Regions from separate parts of the Homo sapiens genome. Here all the other regions are linked to region 2. Evidence: fine-mapped expression QTL. A gene starts in region 2. Each other region holds a variant in brackets. All regions are shown on one strand. Distances are from middle to middle. Region 1 overlaps TTBK2 (tau tubulin kinase 2). Region 2 holds the start of CCNDBP1 (cyclin D1 binding protein 1). Region 3 overlaps TGM5 (transglutaminase 5).

Evidence for each region. PIP is the estimated chance that this variant, and not a neighbour inherited with it, causes the effect.
Region 1: its variant is fine-mapped to the expression of CCNDBP1 in whole blood (TOPMed, PIP 0.98).
Region 3: its variant is fine-mapped to the expression of CCNDBP1 in whole blood (TOPMed, PIP 0.99).

Annotation. Positions count from the first base shown.
Region 1 is chr15:42,780,484-42,790,945 of GRCh38, forward strand. TTBK2 (tau tubulin kinase 2) reads right to left here. Exons shown (of 15, transcript NM_173500.4): 11 at 2,936-3,152. Among named protein-coding and RNA genes, the nearest start is that of TTBK2-AS1, 47 kb to the left of the region's middle. The variant T/C (reference allele first, on the strand shown) is at 5,581.
Region 2 is chr15:43,178,097-43,188,476 of GRCh38, forward strand. CCNDBP1 (cyclin D1 binding protein 1) reads left to right here and starts at 7,307. Exons shown (of 11, transcript NM_012142.5): 1 at 7,307-7,511; 2 at 7,724-7,783; 3 at 8,058-8,137. The coding sequence starts at 7,403. It overlaps TMEM62 (transmembrane protein 62), which reads left to right. Exons shown (of 14, transcript NM_024956.4): 12 at 511-615; 13 at 3,085-3,203; 14 at 6,164-7,048. The coding sequence ends at 6,490. LOC124903478 (a long non-coding RNA gene) reads right to left here and starts at 7,791. Exons shown (of 2, transcript XR_007064604.1): 1 at 7,673-7,791; 2 at 1,619-1,842. RefSeq lists silencers at 7,033-7,332, 7,553-7,642 and an enhancer at 7,813-7,912.
Region 3 is chr15:43,229,435-43,239,547 of GRCh38, forward strand. It overlaps TGM5 (transglutaminase 5), which reads right to left. Exons shown (of 13, transcript NM_201631.4): 8 at 9,729-9,832; 9 at 9,383-9,622; 10 at 6,035-6,403; 11 at 5,335-5,495; 12 at 4,120-4,253; 13 at 3,156-3,910. The coding sequence ends at 3,757. Among named protein-coding and RNA genes, the nearest start is that of EPB42, 13 kb to the left of the region's middle. The variant A/G (reference allele first, on the strand shown) is at 5,604.

The sequences.
Region 1 (10,462 bases), 400 kb before region 2:
TAAGTTAAAAATAACTGGGAAATTTCCAGGACAACTACCAAGAGAACAGAATTAGAATGTTTAAATCCCCAGTAAGTACAAAGAGAAAACAGAAGATGAAAAATACCAACAAAATCTGTAATGAAAAGAAAGGCAGGAAAAAGGCATTAAAAAACTGAATAGAAATTTAAAAGAGAAACAAGTTCATATAAAAATAATTTGGCTGGGCGTCGTGGCTTGTGCCTGTAATCCTACCACTTTGGGAGGCTGAGGCGGACAAATCACCTCAGGTCAGGAGTTCGAGACCATCCTGGCCAATATGGCAAAACCCTCTCTACTAAAAGTACAAAAATTAGCCAAGCGTGGTGGCGGGTGCCTGTAATTTCAGCTACTTGGGAGGCTGAGGTAGGAGAATCACTTGAACCCGGGAGGCAGAGGTTGCAGTGAGCCGAGATCATGTCACTGCACTCCAGACTGGGTGACAGAGCGAGACTCTGTCTCAGAAAATAAATACACAAATACAATAATAATTCTAAATGTAAATCAATTAAGCTGACTAATTAAAACATAAAGACGTAAGATTGTCCACTTATACTCCACTTAACAACAGTCACAACAGAATGAGAAAAAATAGAAAGATAAAGGCAGAAAAAAGATACACCAGGCATGTACTACCCAAAAGAAAGTTGGCATAACTGTATTAACATCTGACAAAATAGGCTTTAATGCTAGAAAAAAAAAATAGTAGGAACAGAATAGAAATAGTCATTATATAAAGAAAAACAAAACTTTTAATCACCTGGCAGATGTAAAAACTCTAAACTTGTATGCACTTAACTCATGGATGAAAAAAATCATTACGGAAAAATATTCAGAACAGAATGAGAATAAAAATACAACACACCAAAACTTTTGCAATACAGTAACAGAGATATTCATTACCTTCTTTCTGCTTGTCTTAGCTTATTCTGCTGCTTCTTTTTCTACTTTCTTGAGGTAGGATTTAGACTATTGATGTAAAACCTTATCTTTCCTAATGTAAGTATTTAGTGCTATACATTTCTCTCTCAGTACTGCTTTAGCTACCTCCCCAACATTTTGATATGTTGTGGTTTCGATTTCATTCAATTCTATGTAAATTTAAAAAATTTTCCTTTAAGGCTTCCTCTCTGACCCATGGATTATACAGAAATATGCTGTATAATTTCCAAGTGTTTAGAGATTTTCCTGTTGTCTTTATGTCACTGATTACTAGATTAACTCCAATATTTTTAGAGAACATAGTATGTGTGATTTCAATTATTTAAACTTATTAAGGTTTGTTTTGTAGCTCTGCTTTTATGGAATCTAACCTAAGACAGCGGTTACCTCAGTGGGGATAGGGTAGAAGCATAAATATAGAAGGAATATGTTAAAATATTCTAGTTCTTAGGGCAGATGGTGGATTCACATGCTTATATTACTATGCTTTGACATGATATATATGAAATCTTTTATATATAGTATAAGTAGATTTTAAAAGATAAATATAGCTGTTTTGAATTTTTCTCCTAGATGACCAATAAATTCCTAAAGTTATAAGCTCTATCCATGCACTTTTTCATGTATATATGTATATATATTTTTTGAGGTGGAGTTTCACTCTGTCATCCAGGCTGGAGTGCAGTGGCATGATCTTGGCTCACTGCAACCTCCACCTCTCAGGTTCAAGCGATTCTCCTGCCTCAGCTTCCCAAGTAGCTGGGATTACAGGCACCCACCACCAAACCCTGCTAATTTTTGTATTTTTAGTAGAGACAGGGTTTCACCATGTTGGCCAGGCTGGTCTTGAACTCCTGACTTCAGGTGATCCGCCCACCTTGGCCTCCCAAAGTGCTAGGATTACAGGTGTGAGCCACCATGCCTGGCCCTCATGTACATATTTTTACTTATACTTCTACTTCAACCACTTCTTCCATAAGACATGTTCCCAACTCCCACCCCATCTGCATGCATTTTAATTTTTTTAAATGTTTTGCACAATGTTCTGTCTTGTATTATATTTGCTTGTGCAGCTACATATCTACCCAAAGAGACCGTAAGCTCCTTAAAGGTAAAAGATGTATCTTAAACTGCACAGCACATAGCTTAGTAAATTGTCTTCAATATTTAGCTTAATGCTTTATCCAGATGTTCAAAATGAGAGCTTGTAATGTACAGCACTATACATTATAAATTCAATAAACTGCACATCACCATGATGACAAATAATGGACTTAGGGTCAAAACTATCTACCATTCAAATTTCACTGAGATTAAATAGTGATAGTGAGTAAAAGACAGAAACCAAAATAACTAAGATCTTCCATGTCAAGCGCCACTTCATTCTCTCGCATACACGGATATCCATATGGGCTGACAACTGAGAATGTCACTAGTGATTTTTTTTTTGCTATAAGAACAGTTTGTTCCTGGTGCCATAAAGACAGCCACAGCTGATACTAGAAAAATCTGACACTGACTCCCTGTCTACTTTCCACTACTCATTCCTGATTACTATTCATCCAGATTGTGCTTTGTCAACAGCCAAATCACATTGTGGCATATCACATCGATCCAGAGATCATTTTGCAAATGACTCCCATGACTGAACATATACACCTGCTATAGTCTGAATGTTTGTGTCCCCCCAAAATTCACATGTTGAAATTCTAACTCCCAATGTGAGGGTATTAGGAGGTGGGCCCCTTGGGAGGTAATTAGGTCAAGAAGGCAGAGCCCTCATGAATGAGAGTGGTGTCCTTACAAAAGAGGCCCAAAAGAGATCCCTTTCCCCATCTACCACATGAGGACTCAGCAAGGAGGAGCCACAAAACAGCCCTCACCAGATACCAAATCTGCCTAGCCTTCCTTCTTGGACTTCCCAGCCTTCTGAACTGTAAGAAATAAATTTCTGTTGTTTATAAGGTACTCATACCTTACAAATTCCAAGCTTTATCTTGTTTTTGTTGGCATCCATCTCTTCCCAAACATCCTTCTCCTGGGGACGGGGGTGTCCCAGAGATCCAGGCAATTTATCTGGTGACACACCAACAGGGATGCCATTTTCTCCATCGCTAAGCTGTTCATCTGGAAATACCTCATCTGTATTTTCTCGAAGCAAGTCTCCAGGGATGGGAGTAGCATTGGCAATTCTACATATGAAGGGAGAAAAAAAAGGCAAGAATCAAAAATTACTATGAGACTATCTTACATCATTTTATTTCTTCATTTAAATGAACTCCACACATAATTAAGAGAGTTAAAAAAAAAAAAAAAGCACCTTGAAAACTTAGGTTGGCCGGGCATGGTGGCTTATGCCTGTAATCCCAGCATTTTGGGAGGCTGAGGCAGTCAGATCACTTGAGGTCAGGAGTTCAAGACCAGCCTGGCCAACATGGTGAAACCCTGTCTCTACTAAAAATACAAAAATTAGCTGGGCGTGGTGGTGGGCACCTGTAATCCCAGCTACTTATGAGGCTGAGGCAGGAGAATTGCTTGAATCTAGAAGGCGGAGGTTACAGTGAGCCAAGATTGCGCCACTGCACTCCAGCCTGGGTGACAGAGCGAGACTCCAGCTCAAAAAACAAAACAAAACAAAAACAAAAGAAAAAGAAAAAAAAAACTTAGGTCATGCCAATCCTACGAAATAAAACTTTAAAATTTTGATCAATTAGAATTTTCAAGCTGATTTTAAAATACAAAATCTAAAACAATAACACCCTAATTTGACAATCACTTTAAAAGTAAAAAGCATTTCATCTATTTTCATAGAAGTCTCTGTCAATTATAACAACATTTTTTTTCTTTTTTTGAGACAGAGTTTCACTCTTGTCGCCCAGGCTGGAGTGCAGTGACGCGATCTCGGCTCACTGAAACCTCCACCTCTCGGATTCAAGCGATTCTCCTGCCTCAGCCTCCTGAGTAGCTGGGATTACAGGCGCCCACCACCACACTGGGCTATTTTTTGTATTTTTAGTAGAGACAGGGTTTCGCCATGTTGGGCAGGGTGGTCTCAAACTCCTGACCTCAGGTGATCTGCCTGCCTTGGCCTACCAAAGTGCTGGGATTACAGGTGTGAGCCACGGCACCCGGCGTGTTAGAGAATTTTTAAAAATTCTAAACAGGAAAATGTTAAGTGCTGTTGAACTCCAAATAAAATACAGAGATGAATCTCCAAATTAACATTCCATTTGGGAAGCAAGAATGACAATTTGGGGCACACACATAGACTGAGTGGGTCTCTGGTATATCTAAAGACCAAAGGAGAGGTTGGGGGTTTTATTAGAGAGATGTCATATACTGTTTTGAAAGAAAGTTCATTGGCATCAGAGAAGCTTTTGGGAGCTGGCAGGCTCTGACTGGTGAGTGACAGAGGTATGTAAATTTAGTCTTGGAGTCACAGCAGGCCATTTCAGCAGCTGGGCTTGTAAGAAATTAAATTCTTGGAGCAGGTGCTATGTGCCCCAAGTACTTTCTCCCTGGCCTCTTGATTGATTTAGTTGACTATGACAAGAATGACCTAATTTGTATAATCAACTTTCGCAGTGCCATAATGAAATAAACAGGTGTCAGATCAATCAGCTATGTTATTTTTTTACAGTGTGAAATGTGTATTACTTTTTCACTTGCAGATTTTTTTTTTTTTTTTTTTTTTGAGACAGAGTCAAGCTCTGTCTCTCAGGCTGGGGTGCAGTGGCATAATCTCTGCTCACTGCAACCTCCGCCCCCGGGGTTCAAGCGATTCTCCTGCCTCGGCCTCCCAAATAGCTAGGATTACAGGCATGCACCACCATGCCCAGCTAATTTTTTATATTTTTAGTAGAGATGGGGTTTTGCCATGTTGGCCAGGCTGGTCTCGAACTCCTGGCCCCAAGTGATCCACCCACCTTGGCCTCCCAAAGTGCTGGGATTACAGGTGTGAGCCATCGTGCCCGGCCACTTGCAGACTTTTTACTAAGCACCTACTACATGCAAGGCCCTAGCAACACAAAGAGGAAGGAAATTCTTGCCCTAGAGGGGAAACTAGACTTTCTGTAATTATACAGTTGATATAGTTCAGCATGAACTGACCTGGGGGAAAAAATAGCAAATATTAATTGGTATTTGTCTATATATTTCTTTCAAAGTAATTCCAGGTCTTATTTATATGGTTGGTCATCGCTCCCTTAGACCCTCCCATGAGAGGCTTTTCTAGTTCACAGTTTTCCTTCACCAAGTGAAAAGGCTCCTGCCAGTTCTGTAACTCTATATTCTAGGGTTTTTTTTTTTTTTTTTAAATATTGCTGACTGAACACAATACTTAGCACACAATGAAACCTCCTCTTAGAAGTGACCTGGAATGTCTCAAAGTAGAAAAATTAGTCTTCAGTACATTATACTGACTCCTGTAATTACTGTGAGTGGCAACATCCTCTCAGTGAGCCACTTTAAGGGTCACAGTTAGATCCTGGCACTGGTGTCACGAGTATTTCATATGCTCTGAGAAGACCAGTGATTTTTCAGGGACTTGTTCCACCTGACTTGGTAACCGATGACCTTCACCACTACCTTTGCCTAAATGGATCAATGCTAGAATGAACC[T/C]CTTTATCAACAATTTACAAGGATATAATCTAGAAAAGCACTGATAATGGCTCCCCGAAAAAAAAGAAAGAAAAAAAAAAAAACTTACAACCTAGTAAAGTAGTATCTGTAGTTCTGACAGTGGAAGCATATTTAAAAGGTAGTTTGGCCTAAAATAGTTCAAATAGTTCAAATCAATAGTTCAGATTTATTATAGAGATAATTAAAGATCAGAAATAAACTGGCTACTAACAGATTTTTCAGATATTAGTTCAATATAATTTATTTATTGATAAAAGAGTCATAATGGACACTAACATACATGTACTACATGGTAATCCAAATGTTTATTGAAAGAATTCCCTCTATTCCTGAGGAAAGAGAAAGGGAAATAGATGAATATTTGAACTCAAGAAGCTTAGTCTATTATCGTCACCTTTTTTCCATTTTAATCACTCAGTATTCTTTCAAGTCCCTTTTTCCCTTATGTCTAGCCACTATTCTGCTTTTTTTCCAACTACCTCAATTCCTTTGCATTTCCTTCTTTCACACCTCAGGAAACAAACCACACCTCCATCTCTGAATACACTTCTACTTTCATTCAATCCTACTTTTTCTCTTATCTCTTATGCTTCAATATGATACCACACACTCCAAGGACCTCGTCCATCTTCTCCACACAGGCTCTCTTTTATAGGACTCAGGTTCCTCTCCCACCCAGACCCTCCCTCTGCATTTATTCTCCATTCCTTTCTCCTTCCCTGGTTATTGTTTCTTTTCCTAAACTCTGATCCAAATCTTGAGTATGCAATATGGAAAGAAATAATTCCTTCCCAGGAAAATTATATCATGTTCAGGAATATGAATGAGTGAGAAAGTATACATAAGAGTGTTATTAGCACATGGTCTGTGTTTCCAGGCAAGGTATTATATAACTGAAGCAGATTAAGGGAATAAGTAAGAAAATGTGTGGAAGAACTGAAGAGATATGAGAAAAAATAGTAAGAACGAATATCCTTTTCATATTTCATTCCCCATAATCTAAGGCAAACTAGTGCTTGTGGGCCAAATCTGGCCTGCTTACCTATTTTTTTTTAATAGACTTATTGGAACACAGTCAGTCTCGTCTGTTTACACGTTGGCCATGGCAGCTTTTGCACTATAACAGCAATGACAGTAGTGACAGAGACAGCATAGCTCACAGATATTTATCTGACCCTTTATAGATAAAGCTTGCTGGCTCATGATTTAAAGCGTCCTCTTACCTTCTAAACTTTCATTCTCCCTCTACGAAGAAATTCAGGGTTCTGGGACATACACTATAAATTTTTCTCTTTAACACTGATTCTCCAGGTATTCTACCATATCATTTGCAAACAGAAAAAAATCAGAAGTTGGCAAACTTTTTCTTAGAGGGCAGACAGTAATGGTTAGGCCTGTGGGCAAGATTCACTGATGGATGCTACAATTAATAGGAAAAGTATGACAAGAAACACAGTGCTGACATAGTTGCAAATATCTTCCCACAAGATTATTTCTTACAAAGAGAAAAACAGTAACTTTATAGTAGAAAGAACTGGCCACTGTAACCAAATTGTCAACATAAGTATCATCAGTAATGAGACATACTGACATTATGTACCTCCTTGTTTAATGCCATAGGTTTTCCTCTGATCTTTGTTCTAAAGTTATCTCATAGATTCTGATAAGTAGTGTTTACATTATCATTTTTTTCTATAACTTTTAGTTTTTATTTTCCTTTTCACCCAAGAGTACAGTCATGTATCGCTTAACAACGGGGATACATTCTAACAAATGCCATCGTTAAGCAATTTCATCATTATCCAAATGATCACAGCGTACTTAAAAAAACTATATTGTATAGCCTATTACGTGCCTAGGCTATATGGTATAACCTATTGCTCCTAGGTTACAAACCTGTACAGCATGTCACTGTTCTGAATACTGGAGGCAAGTGTAACACAATGGTTAAGTATTTGGGTATTATAACATTATCTAAACATAGAAAAGGTAGAGTAAAACTACAGTATTGTAATCTTATAGGACCACTGTCATATATGCGGTGTATCACTGATTGCGATGTCATTACACGGCACATGACTGTAGTTTAATAGGTTCTTAAATTTCCAGTAAAAGGGCCTTTGATATTTTAATTTTGTTGGTAATTTCTAGTTTTCTTGCAGTGTGATCAGATAATGTAATACTTCTACTTTATGGAACTACTTACATGTTTGTTTGTGACCTAATACCTGATCAATTTTTGTGAATGTTCCAGGGGCCCCTGGGCAGGAGGTATAGTCTCTATCATCAAGGTATAGAGTTCAGAAAACATACATATGATCTACCTTACTACGATCACGCTGTTTAAGTCTTCTATCTTCCTATTCTCTGTTCACTTGATCTGTCTTAAACTGAGGGTGGTACATTAACATCTCCAACTATGAGTGTGTTTTTATGTCTCCTTGAATATCCTGCAGTTGTTGTTTCCCAAAGGTGAGTGTCATGATTCTGGTGACTAAATATTAATAAATTTTGTATCCCACTTGTGAATTGTGGCATTTGGCATTAAAAAGTGCCCTTCCATCTTTTCTAAGTTTTTTGTTTTGGCTTGAATTCTACATCATCTGTTATTAGGATCACTTCTCTTTTCTATCTTTCTGATATATCTTTGTCCATCTCTTTCTTACTTTTTTTAGGTGTGTGTCTCTTATACACAGCATATGAATATAGCTATATAACCCAAACTGAAAATGTTTTCCTTTTAATAGGTGAGTTAACCCCATGTATATTTATTGCTGTGACTGATGTGTTTGGTCTTAAGTCTGCTGTAGTATTTTACTTCCTTAAATTGTATTTGAGCTTTGTAACATGATGTAATAGGATATACATAGACAGTAAAATGGTCATTACAGGGAAGCAGATTAACCTATCAACTCACAGTTACTTTTTTTGTGACAAAGAGCAGCTAAAATCTACTTATTTAACAAAAATCTCTAATACAATTTTATTTTTATTTATGTCCAAGACTTCTGAAAATACAATTTTATAAAGGTTATTCCTTATGCTGTCCATTAGATCTCCACACTTGTTCATCCCACATATCTGCTATTTTATATCCTTTGACCTACATCTCCCCATTTCCTTTCCTTCCTCCCTCCTTGAACCCCCTGTGGTAACCACTGTATCATTCTCAATCTCTGTGTATTTGAGTGCTTTAAAATATATATACGTGTGTGTGTGTATATATATATATATGTTTTTTGTTCACATATAAATGAGATCATGCAACATTTTTATTTCTGTCTGGCTTATTTCACTAAGCATGTCTTTTAGTTCCACCTATGCTGTGGCAAATGATAGGATCTCCTTCTTTTTAAAAGCTGAATAAGGTCGGGTGTAGCGGCTCATGCCTGTAATCCCAGCACTTTGGGAGGTTGAGGCAGGTGGATCACCTGAGGTCAGGAGTTCGAGACCAGCCTGGTAAACATGGTGAAACCCCATATCTAATAAAAATACAAAAATTAGCCAGCTGTGGTGACGCAGGCCTGTAATCCCAGCTACTCAGGAGTCTGAGGCAGGAGAATCCCTTGAATCCAGGAGGCGGAGGTTGCAGTGAGCAGAGATCATGTCATTGCACTCCAGCCTGAGCAACAGGGCAAGAATCAGTCTCAAAAAAATAAATATAGAAAAATAAAAAGCTGAATAATAGTCCATTATGTGTGTGTGTGTAAGTATTTATACATCATCTATATTCCATTGTGTGTGCATATATATATACAAATACATACAATACACACACACACACACACACACATATACATTTTCTTTATCAATTTGTCCATCAGTGGGTATTTAGGTTGTTCCTGTATCTCGGCTATGGTAAATACTGCTGCAGTGAACACGAGAGTGCAGATACCTTATTTGGTCAACTAATTTTCAACAAGGGCACCAAAAGGACACAGTGGGATCCAATAAATGGTGCTCTTCAATAAATGGTGCCGGAAAAACTGGATTTCCACGTGCAAAGGAATTGGACCCCTATTTTACACAATACACAAAAATCAACTAAAAATGTATAAAAGACCTATATGTTAAGACCTGAGACTATAAAACTCCTAGAAGAGAACATAGGAGGAAAGCTTTGTCATAGTATTTTATTATTATGTGCACAGTATCTTGCTATACTTGCTATATTTCTTCCTCTACAAGATGTATTCTTTGTCTATTTTTTTTTTTTTTGAGTCAGGATCTCACTCTGCTGCCCAGGGTGGAGTATAGTGGCGCGATCTCAGGTCACTGCAACCTCCATTTCCTGGACTCAAGCCATTCTCCAGCCTCAGCCTTCGGAGTAGCTGGGACTATAGGTGCACAACACCACACCCAGCTAATTTTTGTATTTTTTGTAGAGACAGGGTTTCACCATGTTGCCCAGGATGGTCTCAAACTCCTGAGCTCAAAGTGATCTGTCCACCTTGGCCTCCCAAAGTGCTGGAATTACAGGCATGAGCCACTGTGCCTGGCCCGTACTTTAATTTATAAATAATTTGGGGGGTGGGTATTTCAGAAGTTTTGCCTTTTTGTTCTAATGCTTATCTTTGGACATAAACCTTTTTAAATGCTCTTAGTTCTCTGTGAGTTTTTGTTTGTTTGTTTTGTGACGGAGTCTCACGTTGTTGCCCAGGCTGGAATGCAGTGGCATGATCTCAGCTCACTGCAACCTCTGCCTCACAGGTTCAAGCAATTCTCCTGCCTCAGCCTCCGGAGTAGCTGGGACTACAGGTGTGCGCCATCATGCCCAGCTAATTTTTGTGTGTTTTTTTTGTTTGTTTGTTTGTTTTGAGATGGAGTCTCGCTCTGTCATCCAGGCTGGAGTGCAGTGGCT
Region 2 (10,380 bases):
CTTTTAATTTACTTTTGAAGTATTTTGATATACCTTTTTGAAGTTTGTACATTTGGACACTAAATTCCATAGAAAACAGAGACTTGATCATCCTTTGAACAAACCACTATCTTTCAAACCTATATAAAGATAAAATAGTATGGTGCTCTGGTAGGTGTGTCCATTGCTTTCAGTTATTATATATATATGTATATGTACATATATGTGCATATATATATGAGTTCGATATATTGTGATATATATAACAATTATGTATCTTATGATATATATAAAATATCTCACAACTACACCATTTCTTCGAACTCTCTGCCTTTTGCAATTCTAAGTGAACTGTCTCACCAGGATTCCTGCCAAATTCTGAATTTAAAGTGGTGTCATCTGTATAGTTACCATCTAACAAAGGATTTGCTGAATATATGGTAGATAGCCCATGAAAATCTTCTAGAAAATGTCATAAAGAAACTGAACTTTGCATGTGTTCACTGGGTTTTTCAACTTTATGTTTTTTAGAACCTTCAGGGTTTATAAATCTGACCTCATTTTCTCTTCATGTCTTGAGCAAAATAAACATCTTCTACTATTCTGTGTTGTTGTTGACCCTGTATACAGTGCTGGGTAAGTAAATTAGTACAGATTATGGGGAATTTTGCCAAAGAATATATTAACAATTTTGACAATAGAATTAGACTCTTGAGGGTATAACAAATGGCTCATGGATTCTTCATAAATCATTTTCTGGGACATGGTTTTGGAAAATAAAGCTCGTGCCTAACATGTTTAAAGGACATTTAGTTAACACCAAGTTAACTTAAGGGTGCTGAGAAGACTGCTACAGAATTAGTATTTGTGTAGAAACCTAATAGAAGCTTAAATAGCACCTCCTCAGAGCAACCTTCTTTGTCTATCTTAAAGTTTTAGTCTATATCTCATCACAGGTTTTACTTCCATCATTACCTTTATCAGAATTTATACCTATCTTCTGTGTTTATTATCTATTAACTCATTAAAATATTCACTGGTAGGCGGGTACGGTGGCTCATGCCTGTAGTTCCAGCTACTTGGGGGCTGAGGCGAGAGTACTGCTTGAGTCCAGGAGGTCAAATCCAGCCTGGGCAACACAGCAAGACGCCATCTAAAAAAAAAGTATATATATCTATCCATTGGTATTTTGCCTATTTTGCTTAGTATGTAGTTCATTGAATATTTACTAATGTGTGGCTCTCAAAAATTCAGCTCAAAAAAGAGAGAAACTGAGATGAGCAATAGTTCAGGCATATCTGCACTCTTCTGTTGTATTATTATACCCAGTAGTATCATGTGGCATATGACAAACATTTCAGTCAACAAGGGACCACATATACAGTGGTGGTCCCATAAGACTCTAGTGGAGCTGGAGGTATATAATAGACTATATCATGTAGGTTTGTGTATGATATGTAAGGACAAAATTGCCTAAGGACACATCTCTCAGAATGCATCCTCATGGTGAAGCAATGCATGACTGTACTTATAAAGTCACTTAGCCACACTTATAAAAGCAGAAATCACCATAAATCTTTTAGGCTTTTTTGCTTATGTTTCTTAGTGACTAAAAGTCAATTAGGAGTACATTAGCCTATTTGTTGCCTAGTCTTAGTCTTTATTTTACACTTTTATCCTCCCTTTGCACTTTGCTCATTAGTAACTCCCACCAGAGAACAAATGAAAATATAACACTTTATGATTCTGTGTAAGCTATGGCAGATCACCTTTGGAGGTAAGTTCTCTTGTTCAAGATAGGTTGAAGCTGTTTTTGACGCTTGTCTTACACAATGAGGTAAAGCAAGTAATTTGGTTCCTGGGCTGTAAAACAAAACAAAACAAAATACATTAATAGGGAAGAATTGTTCCATTCAGAAAGTTGAAATCTGAAGACAAAACACCTTTTTAGACTCATATGTCTTTAATGCAGTTTATATAAAGTATATCTGAGAAAATTGCCTCTGACTTTTTAAAGCTGAACCCTATTCTTGCCAGCAAATGATGGTATTTGCATTTTTTTTTTGAGATGTAGTCTTGCTTTGTTGCCCAGGCTGGAGTACAGTGGTGCAATCTTGGCTCACTGCAGCCTCTGCCTCCTGGGTTCAAACAATTCTCCTACCTCAGCCTCCCGACTAGCTGGCATTACAGGCATGTGCCACCACACCTGACTAATTTTTGTATTTTTAGTACAGACAGGATTTCACCATGTTGGCCAGGCTGGTCTTGAACTCCTGACCTCAGGTGATCTGCCGGCCTTGGCCTCCCAAAGTGCTGGGATTATAGGCATGAGCCACCCTGCCTGGCCTAGTATTTGCATTTTGCAAACGGAAATCTAACTGTCCCTTATCACTCTTGACAAACAACTTGACACTCTTATGGAGACCAGCACACTTACAAGACAAAATGACAATAATAATAATAATAATACCTAGAAACTCACACACTGAGAATGGGGCAGTAAATAATAATAGGGAGGATAGAAAAGTCAGCATGGCATTCCAGATGAGAAAACTGAAGCAAGTTAAACTTTCTACATGGTAACCGTGATTATGTAGTTGATATACAAAGTAATGACTGTGGGCCTTCAAGAAGAGGTTAAAATACATTCATTATATTAACGAGTGCATCTTAGAAAGATTTCTTTCAAAAAGTAGTTGAAGTTTTTTTGCTTTAAGGAGTAAATCTCAATCATCTGGAAATTTAACTTCTGTGGAATACCTCTTTACATCTTAAAGGAAATGTTAATGCATTATATTGAGGTTATTATTGCAATGGAATTTTCAAAAATGTGAGTGTGCTTTTTTTGTTTCTAGAATCTATAAGACACATATCTGTTCTAGGTATAGTGTCTACTAAGACAATTTCACAATCCAAAAAATAGTTGGTTAGCAAGGATATCAAGTACAACACAGAGACTAGCAAAGAGGGAAGGCTATGAAATAAAATGCTTATAGATGGCTAGTCTCATATCTCTGCTTTATTCCTATAAATGTATCTCATGATATATGTAATCAGAATTATAGTTATTTAATCTCCTCCTTTTTTGTCCATTGCCTCTTTTAGGTCCATGGTTTTTTGGTGAAATCATTGATGGCAAATTTGGTTGCTGCTTTTCCTTTGGGATATTTGTTAATGGACATTTCCTACAAGGCAGCATAACATTTATAATTGGAATTCTCCAGGTAAGAAGTCAGAAAAGCAATTTAAGAACATCTTGGACTTGTCAGACTAATTGCATAACAGTTATGAATTAAATCCAAAATCCAGAATTAAGTACCATAGATCATCTTTCCTACTTTACTTGCAGGGCAGTCTTTAATAAAAGCTTCATTTGCTTTTAAAGTGCTTCCTAAACTCCTTCCACCACTCTCATGTAAACATCTAAAATACATTTTTTTTTCCCCAAGACAGTGTTCTGCTGTCGCCCAGGCTGAAGCACAGTGGTGCAATCTTGGCTCACTGCAGCCTCCACCTCTTGGGTTCCAGCGATTTTCCTGCCTCAGCCTCCTGGGTAGCTGGGATTACAGGCATGTGCCACCATGCCTGGCTAATTTTTGCACTTTTAGTAGAGACAGGGTTTCACCATGTTGGCCAGGCTGGTCTCGAACTCCTGACCTCAGATGATTCACCTGCCTTGGCCTCCGAAAGTGCTAGGATTATAGGCGTGAGCCACCATGCCTAGCCTAAAATACATTTTTGTCATGAAGTGTTTATAAGAGGTGAAAGAAGTTTTTGTTGTTTTTGTTTCACTGTGCTTTTTCATTGACAAAAAAATGAAACAAGGGATTATGGTAGAAAAAGTTTTAGATTTCTGAGTAAACCAAAACTGATTATGATGATGAAGAAGGAAAATATTTTAGAGGGAGGAAACTAAAAAATAGACACATTAAAAAAATGGGTCAGTTATTCAGTGGAAACTGCATTATTCAAAAACCAGACCTGGGCTTTCCTAGCAATGTACTTGTTTAGGAAACAAACTGATGTATTAGGTTTACATTTGATTCCTTTAAAATAAACACACAAAGAACCTTGATCCATAGAAAAACTACATAAACAGATTTGAAAAGTATTTATCTAACAGTTTCTTTATTTTACTCACCTAATGGAGTTAGTGGACCAAAATTTGAAGTTTTGGAAGAGATCCAAAAACATTCAAAATAAGTTCATGGCCTTCTAACAGGGCAGTAGAACATGATCCAACAGGATTAGAGACAGCCAAGTAGGAAAGACTTCTGCCTAGCAAACACTGACCCAAGTCCAGAATATTCTCTGCATAGCAGCATTATATACATGAGTAGGTCCTGGGTTCATTTCAGTTTTCTTTTCTTTTCTTTTCTTTTTTTTTTTTTTTTTGAGATGGAGTCTCGATCTTGTCGTCCAGGCTGGAGTGCAATGGCATCGTCTCGGCTCACTGCAACCTCTGCCTCCCTAATTCAAGTGATTCTCCTGCCTCAGCCTCCCATGTAGCTGGGGTTACAGGTGCCTGCCACCATGCCCGGCTAATTTTTGTATTTTTAGTAGAGACAGGGTTTCACTGTGTTGGCCAGGATGGTCTCGAACTCCTGACCTCAGGTGATCCGCCCGTCTCGGCCTCCCAAAGTGCTGGGATTACAGGCGTGAGCCACTGCACCCAGCCTCATTGCAGTTTTCTATTATGTTGATGGAGGCTGTCTCTAAGGAGCTCTCTCATACCAAATGAATCCTGAGCCTTACCAAAAGGCAGGGTTTTTTCCTTTGTAAATGTTTACATTCATATTCTAATAAATAGTACACTAATAATGGATTTTATGTATCATCCAGACCCATGAATCCCAAATCTATATCTCTGATCTAGACCTCTTCTCTGCACTTCAAGTGCCTCTATATCCAATGGCCACAGATGTCTAACAGGCATCTCAACTTCATGTGATGTCTCTCTGATAGGAACATTATTTCCACCCCAAACCTGTTCCTCTCTGTTTTTCCAGTTTTAATAAATGACTCCACCATTCACCTGATTTCTCCAAGATGTATCCTCAATTATTCCCTTTCCTTCATACCCTGTATCTATTTCACCAGCAAGCTCTACCTTATTTGATCTGCTTCCAATGCATATCTTGAATCCATCCACTTCTCTCCATTTCTGTTTTCCTAATCTAAGTTGTAATTATTTCTTGCCTGGGTCTTCTCCCTGATATTCTTGCCTCCTTACTCTCAGCTTAATACAGAGCATCCAGTGTGCTCTTTTAAAAACTTTACAATCAGCTCACTTACTTTTCAGCTTGAAATGCTTTGAAGCAGAGCAGTGATCTGGGTCCTGCCGACTGCCCCAATTTCCACCTGGCTCATGCTCTGCATGCACTTCCTTAAAGAGGCCAAGACCTCTCCCACCTCTGGGCTTTTCATTTGTTCCTTCTGCCTAGAATGCACTTCCCTCCGCTGATTCATTCTTGTCCTTCTGGCCTCTGAGAGCCTTTCTCCCAGTTACCTTCTCATGACCCAGTTCTTTCCTTCATTGAACTAATCACGATCTGTAATTATATTTTTTGGTTTTTTTTTTTGTCTGTCTTCTCCCTGTTAGAATGTAAGCTCTATGACGGACCTTTTCTAACTTGTTTGCCATTGTGTCCCCAACTTGGAGCCTAGCTCATGCCTGCTACATAATGGGTGCTCAATAAATATTTGTTAAATGAATGAATCATACAGCAGCTCAACTTGGATTATAATTTAGATACTCTAATTTATATTCCAGTACTTATCATGCTACCTCAAACAAAAATGGAGGTAAGAAAAAAAATACTGATAGCCAAGTCCTCCCCTCACTCCACCAAAAAAGAGGGGTTGTTGTATGTGTGTGTATACATTTACTCAGTTCAATTCCAGCTTAACACCATTGGGTATTAACTGTGTATATGATACTGTACTACAAGTTGGGACTTCAGCATAAATTAAATGATACCTGCCTCTAAGATGAATAAAAGGACATGGGCAAATACACAACTAGCCACAAGTCAGCTGTTGTGTTATAAGCAACTGTGCTTGAAGTAAATTAGCTAACGCCAAGACAGATAGCAGCATAGTCTTAGGATCCACTAATAATGCATTATTAAGACCAAACTCTTCCAAGGACTTGGGAGTAAGCTATGGTTCTGTTCTTTTCCAGCTGGCGTTTTTTAACATCCCCTTGATGGCTTACATGTGTTGGAGCTTGCTGCAGCGGTGCTTTGGTCACAACTTCAGGTCTCATCTCCATCAAAGAAAATACTTGAAAATTATGCCTGTTCACCTACTTATGCTACTGCTGTACATCTGGCAGGTTTATTCCTGCTACTTTCTTTATGCAACATACGGCACCCTAGCTTTTTTATTCTCCCCTTTGCGGACCTGGTTGACACTGCTGACACCTGTTCTCATTCGTTATGTGTGGACACTGAACTCCACCAAGTTTGGAATCTTCATGGTGCAGTTAAAAAGCCACCTGAGCTCCTGAAGGCCATGTCTCACCACTGGCAGCTGGGCAGAAGCCCAGCCTCTGTGTCTGTAGCCCAGGCCTCTACCCCAGTAGCAGGTGGAGGGCCAGGATTGGTGGGTGAGCTTTAGGGAGCAGCTGCTCGTTTGGAGTCCTGGACGTTGGAGGGATTACCCACTACTGATACCTGCAGAATGGACTGCAGAAAAGTCTCAAAAATAATGCCTTTATTCCTTCCCTCCCTAAGGAGGCAAAGAGTTGATTTACCTTTGTGAAGAGAAAACCCTTATCTAGGACATCCACAGGGTAGAGGTTGGGTGTGTGTACGGGAGTGTCTGAGGCCCAGTGTGTTTTTTAGGGTTACCCCATGTAAAGCACTTACCGCTGTGCTTGGAATTCAGCAGCTGTCAAAGGTGCAATTTCAGGGGCAGGGAACCTTTGAGGATCTGGGCCCGACCCTCACTACCCCTGAGATATTAGTTCCCAGGCCTGTTTTCCCACAGGATTGTGGGCTCTCTGCTTCCTTAGTCGGAAGTGTTTTCAACTAATCAAATAAATGAATGAATGATGAATAAGAAAGACGGTGAGCCTGAGGCTTGCTTGTGTAGCCTGGCCTAAGGGGCAAGAGAAGGCGTGGCCTGTCCTGGCCTCTGAGAGTGGGATGGTTGGTGCTGTACCTCAGGGGACAGGGCGGGGCGGGAGGAGGCGGGGCCAGGCCTGGTCTCTGATAACGGGATGGGTGGTGCTGGACCTCGGGCGGGGCCGGGCCTCGTGGCGGGAGGAGGCAGGGCAGGGCCTCTGGGACGGGGCTGGACGGCTTGTTGACGGAAACGAGCCCTTGACGCTGTGGCCCGGAAGTGGAGCGGCTGTCGCAGTGCGGCTCCGGCAGTGGCAGCGGAGGCCTGTGTTTGCGGCCTTCGGCAAGCGACTGAGATGGCGAGCGCAACTGCACCTGCAGCCGCAGTCCCCACCCTGGCTTCGCCTTTGGAGCAGCTCCGGCACTTGGCGGAGGAGCTGCGGTTGCTCCTGCCTCGAGTGCGGGGTGAGCTGACGGAGTTAGAACGGGCGACGGCAGGGGCGGGCTCGGGGTCGGGGAGAGGCCGGGCTCGGGGTCGGGGAGAGGCCGGGCTCGGGGTCGCGGAGAGGGCGGGCTGGGGCGGCGGCGGGGAGCCGGGCTTGGGCGAGGGAGGTGGCTCCGCTTACCTCAGCTTTTCCATTCGCCACCGTTCGGCCCCCACACGCCACACCCACAAGTCGGCGAAGCCCAGGAGACCACCGAGGAGTTTAATCGAGAGATGTTCTGGAGAAGACTCAGTGAGTGCGCCTCCTTCCGGGCTCCCCTTGCCTCAGTTCCTCCAGCGTCCCGACCCCTTTTCCTCCCGCTGTCCCCCACGGAGGGGACTGCTCTCCCCCGCTGCATCCTTTCTGTGAGGTACCTTACCCACCTCAGCACCTGAGAGGGTGAAATAGAATTCTAACCTCGACATTCGGGAAGTGTTTTTGAGAAGTCTCGGTCGGTAAGGGAAGTCTTCCAAGTCCGTGCAGCACTAACGTATTGGCACCTGCCTCCTCTTCGGCCACCCCCCAGATGAGGCAGCTGTGACTGTGTCAAGGGAAGCCACGACTCTGACCATAGTCTTCTCTCAGCTTCCACTGCCGTCTCCACAGGTGGGCTTCACTTTCGTGGAATCCTTGGGCTGCCGAGTTACACCTTAGGAATCCTCTAATTTTCTTTCCACCTTTTGCACGCACGCCAGGAGATTTCTTTTCTTCATCTGTCCAGTGAGGTTACCGTTTTTACTTCACAGGATTGTTGTGAAGACCGAATTGCCAAGTGCAGTTCCTGGCGCGGAGTAGGCAGGTCTTATAAATATTGGTTCAGTCTGAAGTTTATCCTGGTTGTTTCCCTTCTGATAATTTTTTAAGCACTTTTTATTTGCTGGGTGTTTTCACATACTTGATGGCCATCTGACAGATGAGCAAGGAGGCTCAGAAGCTCAGCTTAAGATTTAAAAAAAAGCAGGGGGGCTAGAATTTAAATCAAGGTCTATCTGATGTCTAAGCTACCTATTCTGTTATACTGCATAATACCCTTTTTATATTATTTTTTATATTTAATCAGTAACATATGTAGATAGTACAAAATTCAACAGATATCAAAGTGTGTTAAGTTTACCTTTCCACCCACTTTCTCATTTTTGTCTCCCCCAGTTCCTTTTGCATTATTCCACGTATATTCTGTGCATATATACATTCATATACATTTATCTGTATGTGTCAGCTTCTTTTTACACAAATGATACATAAACACTGTTCTGGACCTTCCAACTTAGAATTACTGCAAACAGTGTCGTGATGAATTACCTAATTCTGTGTATGTGTGTATATTGGTAGAAAAAATTCCCGGAAGTAGAATTGCTAGAACAAAGATTTATGCATTTTAAATATTCCTTTATTATAAAACTAATGAAAGTAAACATGTTGGCTATGACCACGTATGCTCTATGCTCAGTTTTTCTAGAGTTGTGTATGCTTAATATAGGAGTAAGATTCTTTTAAAATGGCATATTCATTGCCTTATTTGATTTTCATAGTCAATTGTTTTAATTTTTCAGTCTACATATATAGGTGTTTGGAAAGGATATAAATATCTTCTGCTGCATGTACCTACAGTGATAAACTCTCTCCTCCTACATACCTTTGAGATTTTTTTTTTTTTTTTGAGACAGAGTCTCTCTCTGTCACTCAGGCTGGAGTGCAGTGGCACAGTCTGGGCTCACTGCATCCTCTGCCTACCGGGTTCAAGCAGTTCTCCTGCCTCAGCCTCTCGAGTAGCTGGGATTACAGGCACCTGTCACCACGCCTGGCTAATTTTTGTATTTTTAGTTGAGACGGGGTTTCACCATGTTGGGCAGGCTAGTCTCGAACTCCTGACCTCAAGTGATCCGCCTGCCTTGGCCTCCCACAGTGTTGGGATTACAGGTGTGAGCCACCGTGCCTGGCCTACCTTTGAGATTTGTGATGAGGAAACAAGAGATGAATTGTATGAGAGCACTTCAAAAGATTCATGGAAAATACTTATTTCAAAAAGAGTAGTTAATATTACCTTATTTTTCTTATCTGCTAACCCCTTTCTTTCAAATGCACTTAGGACTTGCTGCTAAAACTCACTGCAAGTAAGATACCACAAGGAGGCAGCATAGAACTGATTTTCTATACATGCTCAGGACAGTAGTTTCACTCATAGATGAAAAGTTAGAATTTGGATTTATTTGAAATATATACAAATATTCAAGTATATACATATATTCAAATAAATACATATATGTATATATGTGTGTATATACACACATACATACACATGAATCATCATTGCCTTCTTGAGATCTCACCACTTTAGTCCTACTAAAAGATGGGTGGTTGTTGGTTTTTTTTTGTTGTTGTTGTTGTTTTTTAAATTCCAATCTGTATGGAATGATACTTTAATAAAATTATGTGCTCGGATGTTGAATAAATGTCAAATTGCCATAAAAGTTTCTAAACACTCTCAGTCACTGCTTATCTCATCCCTGACTGGTCACAAACAGTTTGTAGACTGGCTCCAACCTGGACCACATTTGTATAGTATTGACTTAGAATTTAACAGAAAATTGAGGACAAGGAAGATGAGAAAGCCAGTGACCACCTAGAAGGAAAATAGTTAACATGGAGCATTGTCGAGTCCATGCTAGTTACCTTTAGTTACATATTCTGATTCTGTTAAAAAAAGAGAGAGACCTGGTTAATGGTTTAATAACCATGGTCTGTCAGTTGGTCTGTCTGTCTCTCTCCCTCCCTCTCTTTTCTGTAAAGGGCCAGTTAGTAAATATTTTAGATTTTGTAACCAACTACCCAACTCTGCCCTTATAGAG
Region 3 (10,113 bases), 51 kb after region 2:
ATCAGCACTCTGCAATCAAATTCTTTTTGTCTGTACTCCTGAAAAAGCAGCAGCCCCAAAACTGGCACCAAGTGGCTCCTGGATACTGGGAAGTCAGGTCTCAGGGACAGGTAGAGAAGTGGTACCAGCTGCTCATTGGTTGGTTGGCTGCTGGTCAGTGGGCAAGTGGTGGGGAAGAAAAACTGAACAGTGGGCCTTGGAGGGCCAGGGACTAAAGGAGGAGCGAGCTCTGGGAAACAAAGTGTAGCTCTTGTTGCTGCCTGCCCTTTCCACACAGCCAGCTCCCAGCTCTCCAGTTATTCACCAGGTTGGGGTGAATGAGAGCTTCTGACACTTCCTTGAACTTCAGGCTAACTTATGACACTAACAAAGACACCTTTAGGACCCAAGGGCAGACCTATGGGAGTACTGGGCAGTGTGACATGGGGGGAATTTGGAATCAGACAGACTTTGCTGTGTGGTCTTAAACAAATTACCCAATTTCTCTGAACTAGATAAAGTCCTTTTGTCTCATGATTGTCCTTTGAATGCAAGCAAAGCCAAAACTAGTGTTGGTCAACTTAAAAAAACAAGAGTATGAAGGAGCTCGTAGATTGATGGGGAAAAGGAGAGCCAGGACTAGGAGAAGGATGGACTCCAGGGCAGCTCGAGTGACTAGGCAGCAGGAACAGAGGCTGGTCTGTCTCTGGGTCTCTGCTGCCAAGATGGATGGACTCCAAGTTTCTCCCTTTTCTAACCCACTTCACTCTGCAGTCAAAGTCCTGGGAGAAGTGTCTGATTGTCCCAGCATAAGTCACATGCCCACCTCTTGGCCATGGGCGGGCAGGGCTTCTTCACTGGCAGATCGACCAAGGCTACACACAATAAGGAAAAAGAAATTTCTTCAAAAACCCTTTTTGCCTGGAGCTGAGCTGAGCGTTGTCAGAAGAAAATTATACTGAGTTCCACTGGGGTTGGGGGATGAGGGGCTGTGAGGTTGTCCATTGGGAATGGGTTGGGGAGAACCTTATTTGCCGTGTTTATTGGTCTATTCCCTACACCTAGAACACTCAGCACATTAGGAACTCAAAAAATGTTAAACGAACGGATGAAAGACAACCTTTGCATTTAAGGAAGGCCTTTGCGCTCAAAGAAGTGACTCTGATGGGAATTGCAAGCTCCTATGGCAGACAAGGGTGGAGAACTATTTGTCCTTTAAGTGCTTCTTAAGTCACATGAAGTCTGCTCAGCTCTGCAAAGTGGAATCGGCCCTGAGCACTGACACTGCAGGAAGTGATTGTGATCCAAGACTTAGAGGAGGCAGATGCCTGAAGATGATTGTGACCCAAATTCCTTAGACTGCGGCCTGAAGCTCTTCACCCCCTGGCTCTTGCCTCATTTCTTTCCTGCTTCTTGCTCCCTCCCATTCTGACCTCTGGCCATCTGAATGACTTGCAGTTCCTGGCTGCTTTATTCCACTCCCTCTCCTTCCAATTCCTAGTCTTTGACCAACCACTAGCTTTTAGGGCTCCACTTAAATACCACTTCCTCCAGGAAGCCTTCCTTGAACCAATATCCCAAGGCTGGACTAGCTGGCCCTCCTTGTGCTCCCACAACACCCTGGTTTACCCCAGTGGTGGATCTCACCACTCTGTGTTATAACCTCCTGTTTATTTTTCATTCTCCACATCCTTAGACTTGAGCTCCTTGAGTGCAGGCCCTGGTCCTTCTTGTGTCCTTAGGGCCTACCTGGCTCAGGGCCTGGCCCCTAGTAGAAACTCAGTAAATTTTTGTTGAATCAAAGAATTAATGAATGTGGTGTTAAAATCAGGACTCATTAAAGAGTCCTAGGGTGCAGTTCCTGAAATCTTCCATGTGCTTCAGAGGTCATTGTGTCTATAAGATGTTTCTCTCTCTGGTGTTTTCCTTAAACTATTTCTCATGATTGTCAGGTAATAATTATAAGATGAAATAATTTTAAGTTACTTCCAGCTCCCTGCCAGTAGCTCCTGGTTCTCAGCCCACTCTCTCACAGGACTATTTCCCTACTTTCCCTAATTCTTGCCACATGCCCTTCTATCCCACTGATTAACTACACATACCTTTGGTTTATACATACTGGAAGTCTTTTTTTTTTTTTTTTTTTTGAGACGGAGTCTCGCTCTGTCGCCCAGGCTGGAGTGCAGTGGCGGGATCTCGGCTCACTGCAAGCTCCGCCTCCCGGGTTCACGCCATTCTCCTGCCTCAGCCTCCCAAGTAGCTGGGACTACAGGCGCCCGCCACTACGCCCGGCTAATTTTTTGTATTTTTAGTAGAGACGGGGTTTCACCGTTTTAGCTGGGATGGTCTCGATCTCCTGACCTCGTGATCCGCCCGCCTCGGCCTCCCAAAGTGCTGGGATTACAGGCGTGAGCCACCGCGCCCGGCCTGGAAGTCTTCATCTTCTTTATTTACTGTGTGTGTATTTGATAGGACAGCTGTCTCAGTCATATAGTCAGTACTGAGAGAGCAAGTGCATCATGCCTTTCTTTGTGCAGAACTTTGTGCAGTGCCACAAGAGGAGATAATGATCAGAATTTTTTTGTGTTCAGTAGGACCCAGAAAGCGTGGAGTTTGCATGACCATAAACACAGGCTGCAACTAATAGAAAACTCTGAGAGTATTCCATTTCCCACTCAAAGTCTACCTCATTGTGTTATTCAGCCAGCTTTATCTCCCCAGCCAACCCAAGGCCATCCAGGACCACAGTGCGTCAGTGAGTTTTGAGTGAATAGGCTGGTACTGTTAGGACTGAGGGACCTCTTAGATGTCATATGGGAAAGGATTCAAAGGAAGGCCAAGGGTGAAAGGTCTCCCAGACTTTTTTTTCCCCCCAAGACACAAAGATGGTAGGTAGTAAGTAGAAACACCTGTGAGTTTTTGTTTTTTCTAGCTGGATCATGGCTGATACACCACCTGTGAGTATCTCACTTATTTGTGGACGTGTTCATTGTCTATGTCCCCTGCCTCCACTAGAAATGTAAGCTCCATGAGGGCAGGGACTTTGCTTTGTTTACTTTGTACCCCTACACTCAGAACCACTTCTGGCATATGCTAGGCACTCAATAAATACTTTTTTGAATGAATGGAGACTGCAGCATCCAAGGAACAGATAGGAAAGTGATGACTACATGAGGCAAAGGAGAGCAAGGTCTGAAGTTTATTCATACTAGGGAATTAGCTTTCGCAACAACAAAACAACAGTGAGCTGTTCAGCCTGTCTTTTTCTTTCCTGGATATCTGGGGCAGGGGGCAGTTAAGTCATGGCCAAGTCCTACCAGTATCCTCTGACCTCTGTGCCAAATCACGCTTCTGGATAGGAGACTGGAATCCTGGAATCTCTGGATGGGACACAGTGGAATCCCTGGGCCCTGAAAAGAGTCCAGGGGAGCTGTGCAAATGGTCCAGGGAAATATCCATCCATAGACATTTCCTACCTGTTCTCTGGATGCTGGAGTCTCCTATTCATTCATTCAAAAAATATTTGTTGAGTGCCTAGCATATGCCAGAAATGGTTCTGAGTATAGGGGTAGTAAACAAAGCAAAGTCTTTGCCCTCATGGAGCTTAAATTTCTAGTGGAGTCAGGAGAGACAGAAAATGAACACGTCATCCCCTCTGTGGCTCTTGCTGGAGCCCTGTGAAGCCTCTGTTGTGGTGGGGAATGGCGCAGCTTGCATTTGAACTTGCTCCTTTTCCTGAAGCTTGAAATTCACACGTCTGGCGCGTTGTTCCAGAATTTATAATGCAAAGTCTACATAAACATTCCTGTAACCCTTAATGTCCTTAAACTTGTTGCTTCTCATATTAGCTTGGATCTGCCTTTGTCCACTCTTGAAGGGGACGGTCTCCAGAATGATGCTTGCTTGGTGTTGGGGTTTGAGGACTCCAAGGCTGCAACAGAGAATGGAGCATGTCAGAAAACCAAAAGCATGATAATGACCCTGGAGCCCTTTTCCACCCAGCTTCCTGAGTGGGAGGGAGTGCTTCCACTTTCCCTTCCCCGGTGTTGTGGAGTCTGGCTCAGGAACCCATGTTCAGGAAGGATAGTGCTAATCTCAGGGGGGAAAAACAGGAGAAGGCTGAGCACTTGCAGCACTTACAAGACTTTCTGCTGTTTCTTGAAGAGGCCACTTCCTTCCACAGTCAGCACACAGTCCTCAACCTGCTCCGAGAGGGGGTTTGAAAATATCACCTGTATGGAGAGTGGCTGGTTCACAACGGCTGCTCCTAGAACCTAAACAGACCAGGAGGGGAAGGAGAATTAGTTCTCATTCCCCAACTCACCAGATATTTACGAAGGGCACCATTCTGTAAGGTGGCAGGATATGCCACCTCCAAATATGCCACTTTGGCATAAGAATTCTTTGAGCCGAAGACAATTGAGAAGAAGCAGATATAAGAAAAGCTCTCTAGTTTCCCTTTATTTGCCTAAAAGCAGGACATAAATTTACAAAGGTGTCCCCCCTCCCCTCTCTACCAGGAAGGACAAAGGCTGATCACCAGAGATGCCTTCAGACCTTTACGAGCCTGGAGAGGGCACCAGAGGAATCTACACAACAAACTTTCTAAGTTTTATCTACCATGAGTTTCCCATGTATTTGCCTTCCCAAAATTTGCCACCCCTTGAGACTCAAGGTCCTTTCCTTTTCTCTTGTCACTTCTCTAAAAACATATTGCTTCTTTGCTAAGATGCCACAAAAGCCCAAGTTCTAGCCAAACCTTCATGTTTCCCCACCGGAAGGGGCTCCATGGGCTTACTTAACAGGGTCTAGGAGGCTGGTTGACTTTGGGGAGACAGCACGGGAAGGAAGGGAGACCTTAAAATCTTCCCACTTGGAAGACCGCAGAATGTCAGAGCAGGCGGGGTCCTCAGAGGCCATCTAGCCTAATCCCCTCTCTAACAGTTCAAGAAACAGAGGCCCAAGGCCCTGTCCAAGGATACACAGCCAAAAAATGGCAAATCAAGTCTGAACTGACTTTCAGACAGGGCTCTCCCCCGACCAGAGACCCTCCCATCTGTGCTCACTTTCCTTATGTTGACCCATGGGGAAGGCCAACAGCAGGAGGGGCACAAGAGGGGGGTCTCTCCTATTGTCCATGGCACCTGCTCAAGGACCCATCCATAGGGCCTCTAGTGAGTGGTGCAAGAGGATGAAGATCTCTCAGACAAACTTCTCCCTCCTGGAGCACCAGAAGAGGCAAAGGAAGGAGGGGATGCTCTCCTAAGCAGGCCCAGGCTGCCCTCTCACAGGGCTTCACCCCCTCCCCGCCAGATCCAAGGAGCCCCACAAGCCATTTGCAGGACTCCTGCCTACATTAATCGTGATGCTTGGATAAGATAAGGTGATGATCTTGTTCACCAGGATTTTCTCAGGACTGCTTTTCTCTTCACCCAGGGCACTGATGCGGATCAGCTTGTCTGTTGACAGGTACTGGCTGTACTGGGAATAGGAGATTTTGCAGGGGTAGGTCTTTGCTAAAGAAAGAACACAAGGATGGGGTGAGAGTAGCTGAGAAAATCAGCCGTACCTGGGTTGGACCTGGGTCTCTCTTCCACAGAGAAGAGAAAGTCAACAAGTACCAA[A/G]TCCCAGGGAAGCAGGTGGCAGCTTTTTAGATGAGGAAATGAGCTGAAAAGAGCCAAAATGGCTGCCCAAGGCCATTCTGCTAGGAAATGGGAGAGCTGAGGCTCCAACGAAGGTCTCAGAGACTCCAAATCTCAGGCTTTTTCTGCAAAACCAGCTACTTTTGTTGTGGTAGGAAAGGAGGAGGAAGAGAAAGGAGGGAGAGAGGAGATACAACGAAGGAAGGAAGAGAGGGAGGGAGGGAAGGAGGGAGGGAGGGAAGGAAGGAAGGAAGGAAGGGGGAAGGAGAAGAGGGAAGGAGGGGAATCGTGCCAGAGGGGACAGTAGAAATGATGGTGTCTCAGGGGTCTGCCCCCAGAACCCTGTTGGCTGGCTTGACCCCACTGACATTGCCAAAACCAACTCTGCGTACACAAACTGTGCACATGCGTACCTTCTTTAGGAGAGAGTGTGATGAACGCTGTGTCCTGCCAGAATGGGGACAGGGGGCTGCCATCGTGCAGCAGAGACTGGGCACTCAGGTTCACTTTGAGGTCCTTGAACTGGGAGGACATGTTGAGGGCCAGCAGGACAAAGCATATATCCTGGCCCATGTTGGGCGGGTCGAGCAGCTTGAATTTCAGGGAGACTTGCACCACATCACTGGGTCGAAGGGAAGGTGTATGCAGGCTCCGAGGGCTGTCCTGGCTCAGTGATGTGGGCCTGGAAGGTTGCAACTCTGCTCCTCTTTGGGAGCCATGGAAGCTTCTAGCCTTCAGCTTCTGCAGAGCCTTCAGAAACACCTGCCTCTCCTGGAGGGATCCTGAAGTTGGGGAGAGCACAGCACCAGCTGTGAGCCAGGCTGACCGGGGTAGACTGAGGCTGAGCGCCATCCCCCACCCAATATCTCCACCAACAACTTCAGGCCTTCACTCCCAGTAACAAGCACTCCCTCCACTCCTCATGTGCTTTCCCAGGCAGGCTCTGCTGGCCACTTCACACCCTTCCTCCTGTATCAACCACAAGCAAGGTGTATTACCATTAGCATTCTTCTTCTTCTTCTTCTTCCATACACAGATAAAGAAAAGGAGGCTAATGGAAGTCATGTCACCTGCCCAAGTCACACAACTAGTAAGGAGCAGATCCCAGGTGGGAAGCAAACCTGCCCAACTCTAAAACCCGTGCCTGTGACCGCTCAACTCTATCCTGATCTCCTCAAGGGAAAGATGAAGGCCCACAAATGCAGAGAAATAAACCTCATAAAGACAGCAGGGCATGGTGTGATGTCCTGTTCCAGAGCCAGATTATTGGTCAGGCATAGACTAATTCCTGGAAACTAAGGGAAAGGAGAAGCACAGTAAATAAGTAAATACATATGAGAGGAGGTCTAGGCGTGCAGAGTTCCCAGGGTGGCCCCAGCTTCCCTGCTCTATCCTGGGGGTCCCTGTGGGCCGCATGTGCAGGAATACTTGCCCACGCCTCATAATTCCAGAAGCTGCTTTTGTTGAGTACTTACTATCCCCAGGGACCAGCTCTACCCCTTCAATGCATTTGCCACAACTTCCTGAGGCAGAGGCCACTTTTATCCCCTTGCTCTGGGGTTCATTCTAAGGCCAGTTCCAGACAAAAGAGAATCTGGAGACATTTGCTTCAGTAAGAGTGGGCCCACAGGCTGAGGGCAGTGGCTCACACCTGTAATCCCACCACTTTGGGAGGCCAAGGAGGGTGGATTACTTGAGGTCTGGAGTTCGAGACCAGCCTGACCAACATGGTGAAACCCTGTTTCTACTAAAAATACAAAAAATTTAGCCAGGCATGGTGGCAGGCACCTATAATCCCAGCTACTTGGGAGGCTGAGACAGGAGAATTGCTTGAACCCAGGAAGCAGAGGTTGCAGTGAGCGGAGATCATGCTGTTGCCCTCCAGCCTAGGTGACAGAGCAAGACTCTGTCTCAAAAAAAAAAAAAAAAAAAAGAGTGGGCCCAGGAAGATGGGAATCTGATTTAGCGCATCTGCGGTCTGTGCGACCCCAGACCCTGTCAGGCTGGGTGGGAGAAGACTGAATACTGCTGGCCTGAGGAGCACCTAAGCAGGACACTCAGGTCCACTCGGGTATGGCTCCAATCCCCCTGAGTCCACAGGGGACCCCGTGGGCCTCTCTAGCAAATGCCATCAAAGCCCTGCCCATATTCCCTTGGCACTTGCCATTTCAGTGTCCACAGGCCCTACTTTTCAAATTGCAGCCCCTGCAACTCTGTCTGAGGTTTTCTCTGCTACCAGAGCAGACTCAGCTCATGCATGGGGCAGGCCAGAAGTGCTAAAGAATTTACATCCCCCAGGAACAGCCCTCAACTCATGACCAACAGGAGTTGATGGATAAACACCCTAGCCCCTGTGACTCTCTGGTGTGATAAATCAGCAGTATTGTTCTACACTTCACACCGAATCAGTGATAGGGTTGCCAGATTTAGCAAACAAAAATACAAGGCAATTTAATTTGAATTTCAAATAAACAACAAATAATTTGGGACAGCCTTTTTTTTTTTTGTTTAGAAATGAGGTCTCACTCTATTGCCTAGGCTGGAGTGCAGTGTTGCCATCATAGTTCACTGCAGCCTCAAATTCTGAGGCTAAAGTGATCCTCCCGTCTCAGCCTCCCAAAGTGTTGGGATTGCAGGTGTGAGCTTACAGCTCCTGGCCTGGGACAAATTTATGCTAAAGCATTATTTGTCCTTTATTTTCTCTGACAACCCCACTTCCAGAGCTCCCAGCCAGCTGTCACTGTGCTAACAGGCTTGAAAATGTACTCTTACATCCACTTCCTTCCCTTCCCTGTCTCCCTCACTCTGCTCCAGGATTTCCAGGATAGCCTAAAAAATAAACCACCTGTATTTGAATGCTTGCCTCAGGATCCATTTCTGGGGCAGCCCAGCCAAGATGAGGCCGGAGGCCCCAGGGAGTGGGTGGTGATGGCACTGCTGGGCTGTGTTCAACACTTGCCCCCTACTGCAAATCCCCTTCCCAGGTGGGGAATTCTGGAGCCTCCCTGCGTCTGTCCCCGAGGCCCACGTAGACGAACCACAGACACCCACTCACCAGCACTCCCAGCAACTGCTCAGCCCTCCCCACCGCCCTTCAGCCACCCTGCCTTGCACCTGCTCAGATCCTCCCCAGCCAGATCCCAGCTCTGGCCCTCACCCTGCCTCTGGCCCTCATGGACTGGATATTTTTGCCTGGCTCCCTGGTAATTGAACCTAGTGGCTGGCGCTTCTCAATGTCCAGGCATTCATCTATAGCTGACTAACACAGCCTCCCCTGTGACCCTGCTGCCAGGGCTGTCACCTCAGAGTCAGCCTCTGGCCGTGCCGTTCCCACAGGGAGGAGTGGTGGGAGTGAACATCTGGGCTCACTTCAGCCTGTCCTCCAAAGACTCAGTGAAACACAGTGAATTAAATAATACCCTAAATAAAATAAATGAATGGCAGAGTGTTTACTAAATTCCCTGCCATCTTCAGTGGGAGGCTGATTTTAGGGGGAAGCAGGGGTGAAGTATTCATATTCTGTTTGGGCTCCACGGTCCATGTCAGCGCCTTGTGGCGGGAGCTCGCTGGCCTGCAGGATGTGGGGTGGGGGTGTCATGAAGAAGTGAGGCTGTGAGGCCACCCCAACTGGGGCCTCAAAACTGAACAGCTGAGGAGACAGTGGGGCTGGGTCCTGCCTCGCAGATGCTCTCTGGCTCCCTGGGGTAGGGGAAGGTTCCTGCAGGGCTGGGGCTCTGAGTAGGGCTGGCTTGCTTACTTACCTTCTTCATACTTGTAGTTCTCTGTGATGTCATCCCGCTCGTCACTCTGGATGCTCTTTGTGCTGATAAAATTGCCAACAGAACTCGTGTCCTGGTGAAGCTTCTGCTCCTTCCCTCCCTGGACGAGCCAGGACATGCAGTCAGCATTCACCATCGAAAACACAAAGGGCGTGTCATAGTTCAGGTCCACTTCTCCTTCTTTGATGGCTCTGACAGAGGCAGGGCCACAGCAGTAGACGCCTGAAGGAGAACAGGGGAGCCTCGGTGGGCTGTTTGTTGCAGGGCTGGGCAGGGGTGGGGTGCTTTCCACGGGAGCGGGGCCTGCCTTTCTTCTGGAGAGCCTCACCGTTGCTCATCTCCTGAGGTGTGGCGTCCAGCACCTGCCAGCCTCCATATGCAGGGGGCAGATCCTTCCGGGCCATCCAGCACTCATTCCAGACATGGAAGTTCCTGTGTCAAACAGAGCCAAGGGAGACGTTGTACTGCTTGGTCTTTCTAGAACAAGGCAAGGGAGGGATGAGCAAATGAACTGTTGGATAGAAAGACAGACTTAGCACACACAGGGCTTAAAACCTCTGTGGATAGCCAGGCACGATGGCTCATGCCAGTAATCTTAGTACTTTGGGAGTCTGAGGTGAGAGGATTGCTTGAGCTCAGGAGTTCAAGATTAACCTGGGCAAAAAAGGAAGATCTCGTCTCAAAAAAAAAAAAAAATTAACTAGGCATCATGG